2 separate regions of the Homo sapiens genome follow, and region 1 is linked to region 2. Evidence: fine-mapped expression QTL. A gene starts in region 2. The other region holds a variant in brackets. All regions are shown on one strand. Distances are from middle to middle. Region 1 has its middle 30 kb from the start of TMEM86A. Region 2 holds the start of IGSF22-AS1 (IGSF22 antisense RNA 1).

What was found. PIP is the estimated chance that this variant, and not a neighbour inherited with it, causes the effect.
Region 1: its variant is the best candidate, but not a certain one, in a credible set for the expression of IGSF22-AS1 in unexposed skin (GTEx, PIP 0.52).

Annotation. Positions count from the first base shown.
Region 1 is chr11:18,665,885-18,671,260 of GRCh38, forward strand. It overlaps the pseudogene SRSF3P1. Among named protein-coding and RNA genes, the nearest start is that of TMEM86A, 30 kb to the right of the region's middle. RefSeq lists a silencer at 1,144-1,344 and an enhancer at 2,572-3,073. The variant C/T (reference allele first, on the strand shown) is at 2,788.
Region 2 is chr11:18,704,540-18,709,915 of GRCh38, forward strand. IGSF22-AS1 (IGSF22 antisense RNA 1) reads left to right here and starts at 1,942. Exons shown (of 3, transcript NR_186353.1): 1 at 1,942-2,610; 2 at 2,739-2,854. TMEM86A (transmembrane protein 86A) reads left to right here. Exons shown (of 3, transcript NM_153347.3): 3 at 1-246. IGSF22 (immunoglobulin superfamily member 22) reads right to left here. Exons shown (of 23, transcript NM_173588.4): 18 at 4,848-5,144; 19 at 3,668-3,756; 20 at 3,265-3,457; 21 at 2,375-2,674; 22 at 1,278-1,607.

The DNA of each region.
Region 1 (5,376 bases), 39 kb before region 2:
GAAGCAACTGGCAAAAATTGAACTAAGATTTACTTTTTTTCCGTAGCTGGGATATAGGATGCAGCTATAGTTGAACAAGCAGTCTTTAAAAACTGCTGTGAAACACAAGCCATCAGGTAAAAATAAACGCTGCACTATTAAATTACAGGTTTTTGAAAAATCCAACTCACTTTCATCCTGGGCAGAGGTTGCCTAGTTGGTATAGAATCTGTTAAGTTTCAAGAAAGTTTGCCTTTGCTTTAGGTCATAAGTTACTTATTTGATTGCTGTATATGAATACATGGCTGTTCGTGACATTTTTTATGTGCAAATTTGAGATTTCAAAAATGTCCTGCCAGTTTAAGGATACATTGTAGAGCCGAACTTTGAGTTACTGTGCAAGATTTTTTTTTCATGCTGTCATTTGTAATATGTTTTGTGAGAATCCTTGGGATTAAAGTTTTGGTTACAAATTGTTGTTTAACTTGAAAGCCTGTTTTTCCTTGCAAACTCAAATCTGTGAGCTGAGCTTGGTACCAAGTCCAGGTATAACATTCCTATTGGAAGCCATACTTATATTTTCTCGTAAAGTGCTTTTGAATTAATAAAGTATTAGAAAAAAAAATTCAGATTGCTGAAATTTTGGGGAGATTAATTTGAGCAATAATAAAATTCTGGTCTCCTATACAGCCAGTTCTGCATGAATTAAACTCCTTCTGTATTCTAATTCCCCTGTCTTTTCTTTTTTTTTTTTTTTTTTGAGACGGGGTGAAAGCAAGTTTATTAAGAAAGTAAAGGAATTAAGTAAATTATTAAGAAAGTAAAGTAAAGGGAGTCTCGCTCTGTCACCCAGGCTGGAGTGTAGAGGTGAGATCTTGGCTCACTGCAAGCTCTGCCTCCTGAGTTCAAGCAATTCTCTGCCTCAGCCTTCTGAGTAGCTGGGATTACAGGAGCCTGCCACCACGCCTGGCTAATTTTTTGTATTTTTTGTAGAGACGGGGTTTCAGCATGTTGGCCAGGCTGGTCTCGAACTCCTGACCTTGTGATTTACCAACCTCAGCCTCCCAAAGTGCTGGGATTACAGGCATGAGCCACCACGCCTGGCCACAGTTCCCCTGTCTTGATGCATCAGCTTTGTCTAGGCAGCAGGCAAGGAAAACCTGTTGAGTCGTTACACTGCCACAGCCCCCAAATGAAACAGTTATATATGCTTGAGTTTTCCCTCCTCCCCTGGGCACCCTCTGAGTTATGAAGGTTCCTCCTGAAACCAGGGCCACATAAAGTAAGGGAGGAGACCATCCCTCATATTGTCTTATGCCCAATTTCTGCCTCCAAAGAAAGAAGAAGTAAAAACTAGAAGAAGTAAAAGGCAGAAATGAAATCCACAGGCAGACAGCCTGGCACCGTGCCCTGGGCCTGGTTAAAGATTGACCCCTGACCTAACCAGTTATGTTATCTATAGATTGCAGACATTGTATGGAAAAGCATTGTGAAAATCCCTGTCCTGTTCTGTTCCGTTCTGATTACCAGTGCATGCAGCCCCCAGTCACGTACCCCCACCTGCTCAATCGATCACGACCCTCTCATGTGGACCCCCTTAGAGTTGTGAGCCCTTAAAAGGGACAGGAATTGCTCACTCGGGAGCTTGGTTTTTTGGATATGTGTCTTGCCGATCTCCTGGCCGAATAAAGCCCTTCCTTCTTTAACTCAGTGTCTGAGGGGTTTTGTCTACAGCTTGTCCTGCTACAAAAGGAGCACATTATTTCAGTCAGCACTGTGCTGATCTGTGTTGACTCCCAGGATGGGAACAGGACAGTATTTCCCAAACTTTAATCATTTCAGAAGCTGCCTTATGACTTTTGCCATTTCCACTTATTATCTGTACTATTCAATCCCTTTTCTTCAGGTTTTTAAAGATTAAATTTTTTTTTCATTTTTTTTTTTTTTGAGACGGAGTCTTGCTCTGTCGCCCAGACTAGAGTGCAGTGGTGCGATCTTGGCTCACTGCAAACTCTGCCTCCTGGGTTCAAGCGATTCTCCTGCCTCAGCCTGCCACTGCACCCAGTTAATTTTTGTATTTTTAGTAGAGATGGGGTTTCACCATCTTGGCCAGGCTGGTCTTGAACTCCTGACCTCGTGATCCACCCGCCTTGGCCTCCCAAAGTGTTGGGATTACAGGCGTGAGCCACCGTGCCTGGCCTTAAATCTGTTTTAAAAAGAAATCTGGGAATTCACTATCACTCGACTTAAATAGAAGGCAACTGTAAAAACATATGCAATAAAATGATTAAGTTCTGACTAGATACAGTTTTAAAAGAAATTAGCAAAGTGTTTGGAGCTAGGATTCAAACCCAGGATTGAGCCAGAGACAAGGTCTTAACAACGGTGATTCATGTACCGCCTAACCGTGCCATTTAGGAAACCACTGGGGAGGAATGTAGTAGAATGGAACTTGCTGAGAATGAGAGCCAGTGAGGAATGGTGGAGGGTGGGGACTGAAATTTAATGGGAAGCCTTGGAATAGGGTTGCCAGATATATTACAGGACACTCAGTTAAATTTGGATAAAAGTATGTCACAACTAAAAAGGTACTTGCTTGTTTGAAATTCAAACTTAACGGGAGATCCTGCATTCTTATTAACTAAACCTGGCAATCCTAAAAACTTAACGGGAGGTCCTGCATTCTTATTAACTACACCTGGCAATCCCACCTAGGAATCAAGGGCATGATTCCAGCAGGAAATTTATCCTCAGGGAGAGGCAGGCAGTAGTTGCGTCTGTGAGGCCTGTGGTAAGACTAACCCCTGT[C/T]ACTAGGCAGCAGTAGAGAACCGAGCAGAGCAGGGGGAGGGGCTGATAGTGGGGAGAGAAGAGCGGACGGGTGTGGGACTTTGGGGCCGCTCTAGGTCCTCATGCAGAATCTCAAATCAAATTAGCAAAAGACAGGAACAGGCAGCTCACAGACAAACAGCTTATACATGGCTAATAAACAAGAAAAGACGGGCTGGGCGCAGTGGCTCACGCCTGTAATCCCAGCACGTTGGGAGGCTCCGGCAGGCGGATCACCTGAGGTCAGGAGTTCGAGACCAGCGTGGCCAACACGGTGAAACCCCATCTCTACTAAAAATACAAAAAATTAGCTGGGCGTGGTGGTGGGCACATGTAATCCCAGCTACTCAAGAGCCTGAGGCAGGGGAATCACTTGAACCCGGGACGCGGAGGTTTCAGTGGGCCAAGATCGTGCCATTGCTCTCCAGCCTGGAGGACAAAAGTGAAACTCTGCCTCAGAAAAAAAGAAACAAAGAAAAAAAAGAAAAAGAAAAAAATGCATAGTCCTACTCATAATTGAATTAGTCAACCTAAAATGAGTTCTTTTCCATCTCTCAGATTGGCAAAAATTTAAATATGAAAAAGATTACTAATACTGTGTTGTGGAAGTGTGAGAAAATACTATGTAGAGCAGAGACTGGTCACAGAAATTCAGGGACTGGAGTTTTTAAGGTTAATTTGGTGGGTAGAGTCTCAGGAAGTGGGGAATGCTAATTGGTCAGGTTGGAGATGAAATCATAGGGAGCTGAAGCTGTCCTCTTGCGCTGAGTCAGTTCCTGGGTGGGGGCCACAAGACCAGATGAGCCAGTTTATTGATCTGGGTGGTGTCAGCTGATCCATCGAGTACAGGATCTGCAAACTATCTCAAGCACTGATCTTAGGTTTTACTGTAACCTAAGATGTTATCCCCGGGAGCAATTTGGGGAGGTTTAGAATATTGCAGTCTCCAGCTGCATCTCTCAGACTGGCAAAAATTAAAATATCAAAAAAGATTACTAGTACTCTGTTGTGAAAGTGTGAGAAAATACTATGTGAGTAGAGACTGGTGCATCCTCTTTGGATTAATATCAAAAGAAGAGATGCACATAGCCTTTAATCAATGACGTAACTCCCAGGGATTTATCAGACAGATTTACTCTCCCTTAGATGTGGAGACATAAGAGGTTGTAAGTGCAACCTGGAGCTGGGTTGCTAGTCCATAAAGCACCTTGGATATCAATGTCGACTCCGCCAGCTGTGATGTCACTTGACCAATGGGAGGAGAGAGGGGAAGCGCTGGCTTAGGGAGCTGAATGTTGTCCACTCCCTCTCCCTGCCCTCTACAGCTTTTTCCCCCCAGCTGTGGCTGCTCTGGGAAGCAGAAGTAAATATTGATTTTTAGAACCATCTAGACCTGATGTCAAATCTGGTTCTGTCACTTACTTGCTGTGTGACCTTGTCCTAGCAAGTTCACCTCTCATTTTATTTTATTTTATTTTATTTTGATATGGAGTCTCGCTCTGTCGCCCAGGCTGGGTGCAGTGGCGCAATCTCCGCTCACTGCAAGCTCCGCCTCCCGGGTTCACGCCATTCTCCTGCCTCAGCCTCCCAAGTAGCTGGGACTACAGGCGCCTGCCACCACGCCCGGCTAATTTTTTGTATTTTTTGTAGAGACGGGGTTTTGCCATGTTGTCCAGGCTGGTCTCAAACTCCTAACCTCAGGTGATCCACCCACCTCGGCCTCCCAAAGTTCTGGGGTAACAGGCGTGAGCCATCACATCTGGCCTCACCTCTCCTTTTCATTCATTTGATGATACATGTATTCAAAAATATTTATTGAGAATTTACTACTAGGCACTGCAATTTTGTGGTGAACAAGACAAAGTCTCTTTATCTCTTAGAACTTTCAGGCATGCAGGGTTGTTGGGGAGACACAATAAACAAGAAAACTAATAAATGGTGTAATATGGAAATGGTAGTAGATACTAAAAAGACAATAAGATAAGATGGTTGGGTATGGTGGCTCACGCCTGTAACCCCAACCAAGGCAGGAGGATCTCTTGAGCCCAGGAGTTTGAGACCAGCCTGGGAAACATAGTGAGACCTTGTCTCTACTATAAACAAAAAATTAGCTGGTGTGGTGGTGTGCACCTGTGGTCCCAGCTACTTGGGAGGCTGAGGCAGGAGGTATCACCTCAGCCCGAGAGGTGGAAGCTGCAGTGAGCCGTGATGGTGTCACTGCATTCCTGCCTGGGCAACAGAGTGAGACCCTGTCTCAAAACAAAAAACAAACAAAAACAATAAAATAAGATAAAATGATACAGTGACCAGGGATGTTGCTTATATGTAATAGGAGATGACAATTCTGTTTCACAGGGTTGACATCAAAATTACATAAGATACTACATATGAAGCACTTAGCATTGTGCCCGAGACAGGGTATTAATTATGGTAACAATTACTGAATGTTTGTAATGTGCTAGACACTGTTCCAAGTACTATGGGTAGACTAACTCATGTAATGACCTTGTTTTCCAGATAAGGAAACTGAAGCACAGGTAGGCTGAATTACTTGCCTAAAGTCAGGGAATT
Region 2 (5,376 bases):
TGAAAGAGCAAAGGAAGTATTCGTTATATTAATGATGCTGGCGACCAGGGAAATTCCAAACTGCTGGACTTCCTATGCAGGAAACCAGGAGCTGGACCCTGGGACCCTTAATCTTGGGTTGGCAGAGTGTGAAGGGGCAAGAGCTGCCATTTATCTAGCACTTAATATTTGCCAGACATTGTGCCAGGCAGTTGTGTACTGTCTCATTTAAGCCTCATAGTCCTATAAAGAAGATGAGAAAACAGGCTCAATGAGGTAGCTTACTAAGGTCACATGGCTGGTCAGTGGCAGAGCCAGGGCCCTGGGCCCATTTGCTGTGCTTACAAGCAGATTTGAGTTATCAGGGATCTCTTTAGCTGTGGAATGAAAGCTGGATAGCACCCACAGTGCCTTCCCTGGCCTAGTTCTTTTACACAGCTCAGCAGCCTCTCTGGAGATATTGTCTCAGTGCCAGACACTTAGCTAAGCACTCGAGAGACAGAGCAACAGGACAAGGTCCTTTCCCCAAAGAAAGGTATCTATAACTGGATAAAAAAGGTCTGTAACCATGGAGACCACAGCAATGGAGTGTCATGGAAGGTTCAGGAGTAGCAGAAGGTGAGATGAGAGGTGGGGGAGGGGGAAACCTTCTTGGTTTGGGATTTTACCATGAGAGGAAAGCTGGGGGAAATTTAAGCAACAGAAAGCAAGGCAGGCCAGCTTTGCATTTAGAGTTCATGCTGCTAGCTGTGTGGCTATGAAGACAGTAGACTGGGAAGGAATAAAATGCTTCCCCCTATGTGTGCACACATGAGTAGAAACATGGCATGCATGTACAAAAGGGAGGGTTCCCTTCGCTCCTTCCCTTGTTTGTGCCCCCCACCGGTCCTTATCCTAGACCAGTTTTAATTTTTATTGCACATCAGAATCACCCGCAAAATTTTGTAAACATATAGGTTATTTCCAGAACCGTGCCAGAGAGATCGTGATTGGTGAGTCTGGTTGAGTCCTGATCACCAGTATCTTTTTTCTGAAGGCAGGTCTAGGCTCACCAAGAGTTGCAAACCACATCTTATCTAGGGATTGAGAACTCTCATGTCTGCAGGGGCCAGGCATATAACAAATGACATCGAAAGGATGGGAGAGTGGTAAGAACTGTGGCCAATTAAGAATGTTTGCACCACCTGTTGGCAGTCAGATTAAAAAACGGTGCCAGCCAAATAGTTGACCAATGGCCCACAAGACCAGCCTTTTGCGCCTCTCCCCCTCCTCGAGGCCGGACCCCGCGGCGCCCTCACCATAGACGGTGAGCGTGCAGCTGCTGCGGTCCTTGCCCAGCTCGTTCTCCACCAGCACGCTGTAATCGCCGCTGTCCTTGAGCGTGCAGGTGGGGATGACGAGGGTGCACACGCCGCTGGTGGAGTTGTACCAGAACTTGGAGTTGGCCGTGATGTTGACGTCGCCCTTGTAGAGGGTCACTGTGGGCCGCGGGTTCCCAAGGAAGGCGCAGGTCATGGTGCAGTCCTGGCCGCGGAGCACCGTGTGTGGCTTGAGGGGCGTCACGAAGCGCGGCGCGTGGCGCCAGTCCTTCTTCTCGTAGGGCTTGAGCTTGGCGCTCAGGTCCTGGACTGCGCGGGCGGGGCGGGGCAGGCCGTGAGGGCGCCCCAAGGCCCCCACCCACCACCCACGTCTTACAGTTCAGCTTACACGGAACCCCGAGGACCTAGGCCACATTCCCAGCGCCACCAACTCTGGGGGCCCAATGTTACACTGGTTCTTAAGGGCTCCCCACCCGCCCCCAGGCCTCCCCCGACCCCCCAGCCCCGTCCCCAGCCACTCCAGGGTTCTGCCACCCAAACCACGCTTTCCCACACCCCTGGGGCCGAGATGTCATTCCAGCGCCAGCTTCCTGGACCCGGTTATTCCCAGCCTTTAACTCCGCCTCCAAGCTTCCCCTACGTCATATCAGCGACCACAGTCTCCCCTCTTATCCCTTTAGCTCCTCAGTTCGAGTTTCCCGACGCGGCCCCCACCCTTAACCCCTAGCCTCCAGGGATCCCAGACATCCTCCCGGCTCCCTAGAGCCCTCCCCTGTTCTCAGCCCCGTTAGACCCTCCCCTCAGAGCAGAACGCGTTTGCGCTCTATGTCCCTCCGCAGCCCCTCCACCGTCCTCTCTGCCCCCAAAGGTACCTCCCCACCTCCACTTTAGTCTCACCCCTAAGTACCCCGAAGAAAGCCAATATTTCCTTCTCTCCGCAGCGTCCCAGATATTAACCGTTCTATCTCAATGGTTTTCAGATTTTATCTTGCCTCTTGGGTACCCTTTGGGACCCTTATGTCATCCCCACCATCAGGGCACCCAGACTTAACCCTAACTGCAAGTCCCAGACTCACTCTGGTCCTTATTGATGAGCCAGGTGTCCCTGGAGTCAAGTGGCTCACTGTCACCGATTTCATTCCGAGCCACCACTCTGAAGTAGTACTTCCTGCCTGGGAGCAGCCCCGTCACTGTGTACTTGTTGCTGAAGACACGCTCGGCTGCCGTGTACCAGGTGGCTGTGCTTGCATCCCGCTTCATGATGATGTAGTGAGCCTCACCGTCCTCCTGCACATCTGGGCTGTGGTTCCAGGTCAGAGTCACTGTGTTGGGGACTTCCTCAAACAACCGTAGGTTTGTGGGGGGCCGAGGGAAATCTGGAAGAGTTGGAAGATCTGTCAGCGACCTTGGGGCACCTGAAGTATTATGTCCCCACCCCAGCCATCTGCCAAGTCCGATGGAAGATAAGATGGGGCAAGTCTCAGGCAGCTGGTGTCTTGGAGTCGGAAAACTATTTCTGAAGTCTGCTCTGCCATTTACTAGCCTCGTGACCTGGGGTAAGTTACTTATCTGAGACTTCTTTCCTCAATTGCAAAATAGAGCTGACAATGACTATTTCGTAGAAATAGTGGGTAAAGAGACTGGCATGTAGTTACTGTTCAGTAAAAATGAATCCATTCCTTCCTTGGGGGTTTAGAGCTTTATTTTAAAGCTTCCAGCTCTCTTTAAGCAGTCACCCCAATTTTTAATGGATTCATCTCCATTTGTCCCTCCTGCCCCTCCACCCATTTCTACTCTCTCTGCCGACCATACTCTGTATGATAAAGTCTTGCTCTGTGGTGTCAAAGAAATCTTCATGGCCCTAAGGCATGACTTTCCTGTGGTAGGAACTCAAGCGGCACTGGGGAGCTGTGCTTTGGAGAGTGTACAGGGATGGGTCTTGGAGGCCTCTGCCTTCTCTCCATACCTGCCACGCGCACATGGATGTCATAGCGTGCTTCTCCAAACTCATTCTGAAGCAAGATTCGGTACACCCCTGAGTCAGAGCGCTTGGTGCTATTAATGAGGAACTGGGAGTGGTTTTTGCTCTTGGTAATTGTCTCTCGGCCCTTGGTGGGAACGCCATCTTTCTGCCAGATCACGTCAGGTGGTGGTGAGCCCTGAGTAGTGACAGGAGATGGCACAACTGGTCACACAGATGATATTTGGGGGCAGGCCTTCCTCCATTGTCGAGGAGTTTCCTGCCAGGCTGTCGCACTAGGGGTCTGGTGAGGGGCAGAGTCAGAGTCAGAGTCAGAGACTGTGATGGCTACAATAGCCATCTTGGTTATGTGGACAGTGTATGGAGGTCAGGGTCAGGGACAACTCACAGAGAAGGCTGCATGGATGCAGAGGGCTGTCCCAGCGCGAACCACCATGTGACTCTTCAGCCGGGCACTGAGGTCAAACTTGGGTGCAGCTGAGATGGAGGAGACAGAGGTGGAGGCATGGATCTGTCTTTCAAGAAGACTCTGCTTTAAGCCTCCTCATCAAAGCCTTCCCAACCTCTCCTCCTTTATGCCCCCACTACAGGCCATACAGACATCTAGCTGCCCTGCAACCCTGTGAAGCATTTATTTGTTTTCTCATCTGTCTCCTTCTACTAGTACGCAAGACCCTGGAAGGCAAGTCCTTGTGTCTTGTTTCTATAACCCTAACACCTCCTTTTGAAATTGCCATTGCAACAATTATAACAGCGAGAAAATTATGACAGTGAACGAGATCTGATCTAACCAACCCCCATCTTGCCTTTACCCTCCAAACTGCCCTTAATCATTCCTGGTTTCAGACCAAGCTAATGTTGGGAGAGACATTTAGTTTATAGCTTAGATGATAACAGTCTTCCCCCAAACTAAATCACCTTTGCGAAGCTAATGAAAGGCCACCAGGTTAGGAGGATGTGAGGAGCCTGAATTCTGCTAAGGTGTAGACATAAAAGATTACCAGCCATTATTCCAGAGATCACAAGATTTGCAACTCCCCAGCTGCTCCTGCAAATAACATCACTATTGTAGAGCCTAAGATTGGTGGTTGAGATGTCTTTTCAGGTTTTTGCATTTCTGACGACTGATGGCTCCACCTGGACCTGCTCTCCCTCCACCCCACAAGTCCTGAGGCCCCAGTCAGAAGCAGGCTCCCTGGACTTTGAATTTTCGGGGAATTGATTTGGGTAATAACTCTGTCTCCCATACAGCATGGCTGGCCTTGTGTCCATTAAACTCTTTGTTGCAATGCTGTGGTCTCAGTGAACTGGTTTTGCGTGTACAATGCGCAAGAAGAACCCATTGGGTGGTTACACCTTGACACACAGTAGATGCTATTTGGCACACAATGATTGATTTAGTAGGGGTGCCCCTGAAGTTACCCCTAACTTTGTCCAGGCACAACAACTATGGATGACTTTTTCATGATCCTAGCATCATCCAATTTTCCTGTGGGATGAGGCCCCAGAGGAGAAGGTTTGGAGGTACAATGTTGGGCATGAATCCCCAGCCCTCTCTGTGTCCTCACCTGGTGGTGGCATGGCACGGACCCCCTTGTCTAGCTCCACAGGCTCCCCAACCCCAGCCTCATTCACAGCCCGGATTCGGAAGAAGTATTTCTGCCTCTCGATGAGTCCTCCCACTGTGTAGCAGGTGCCTGAGATGGGGATCTTTGTGCACTTGGACCACTCCTTTGTGTCTTCAGCCCTCATCTCAAGGATGTAGCCAGAGGGTGGGTCTCCCTCTGCAGGCTCCCGCCAGGCCAGGGAAATGCTGGAGTTGGAGGAATCAGATACATGCAGGTCCTGGACCAGGCCTGGGGGTTCTGGGGTAGAACAGACATGTAGTCAGCCCCTCCAACTCATCTCCACTCAATGCCTTGCTCACTTCCCACACTCAATACTCCTGAACCCCATCCTTCACTACTTCTAGCTCCAGATCCCTCAGTTAACACCCTTAGTACCTAGCCTTATACACTCAACCTCCAAATTCAAATTCAGTTATCTTACTGTTTTAACACTTTCATCCTTAAACTCAATACCCCTTAAATTCAACAT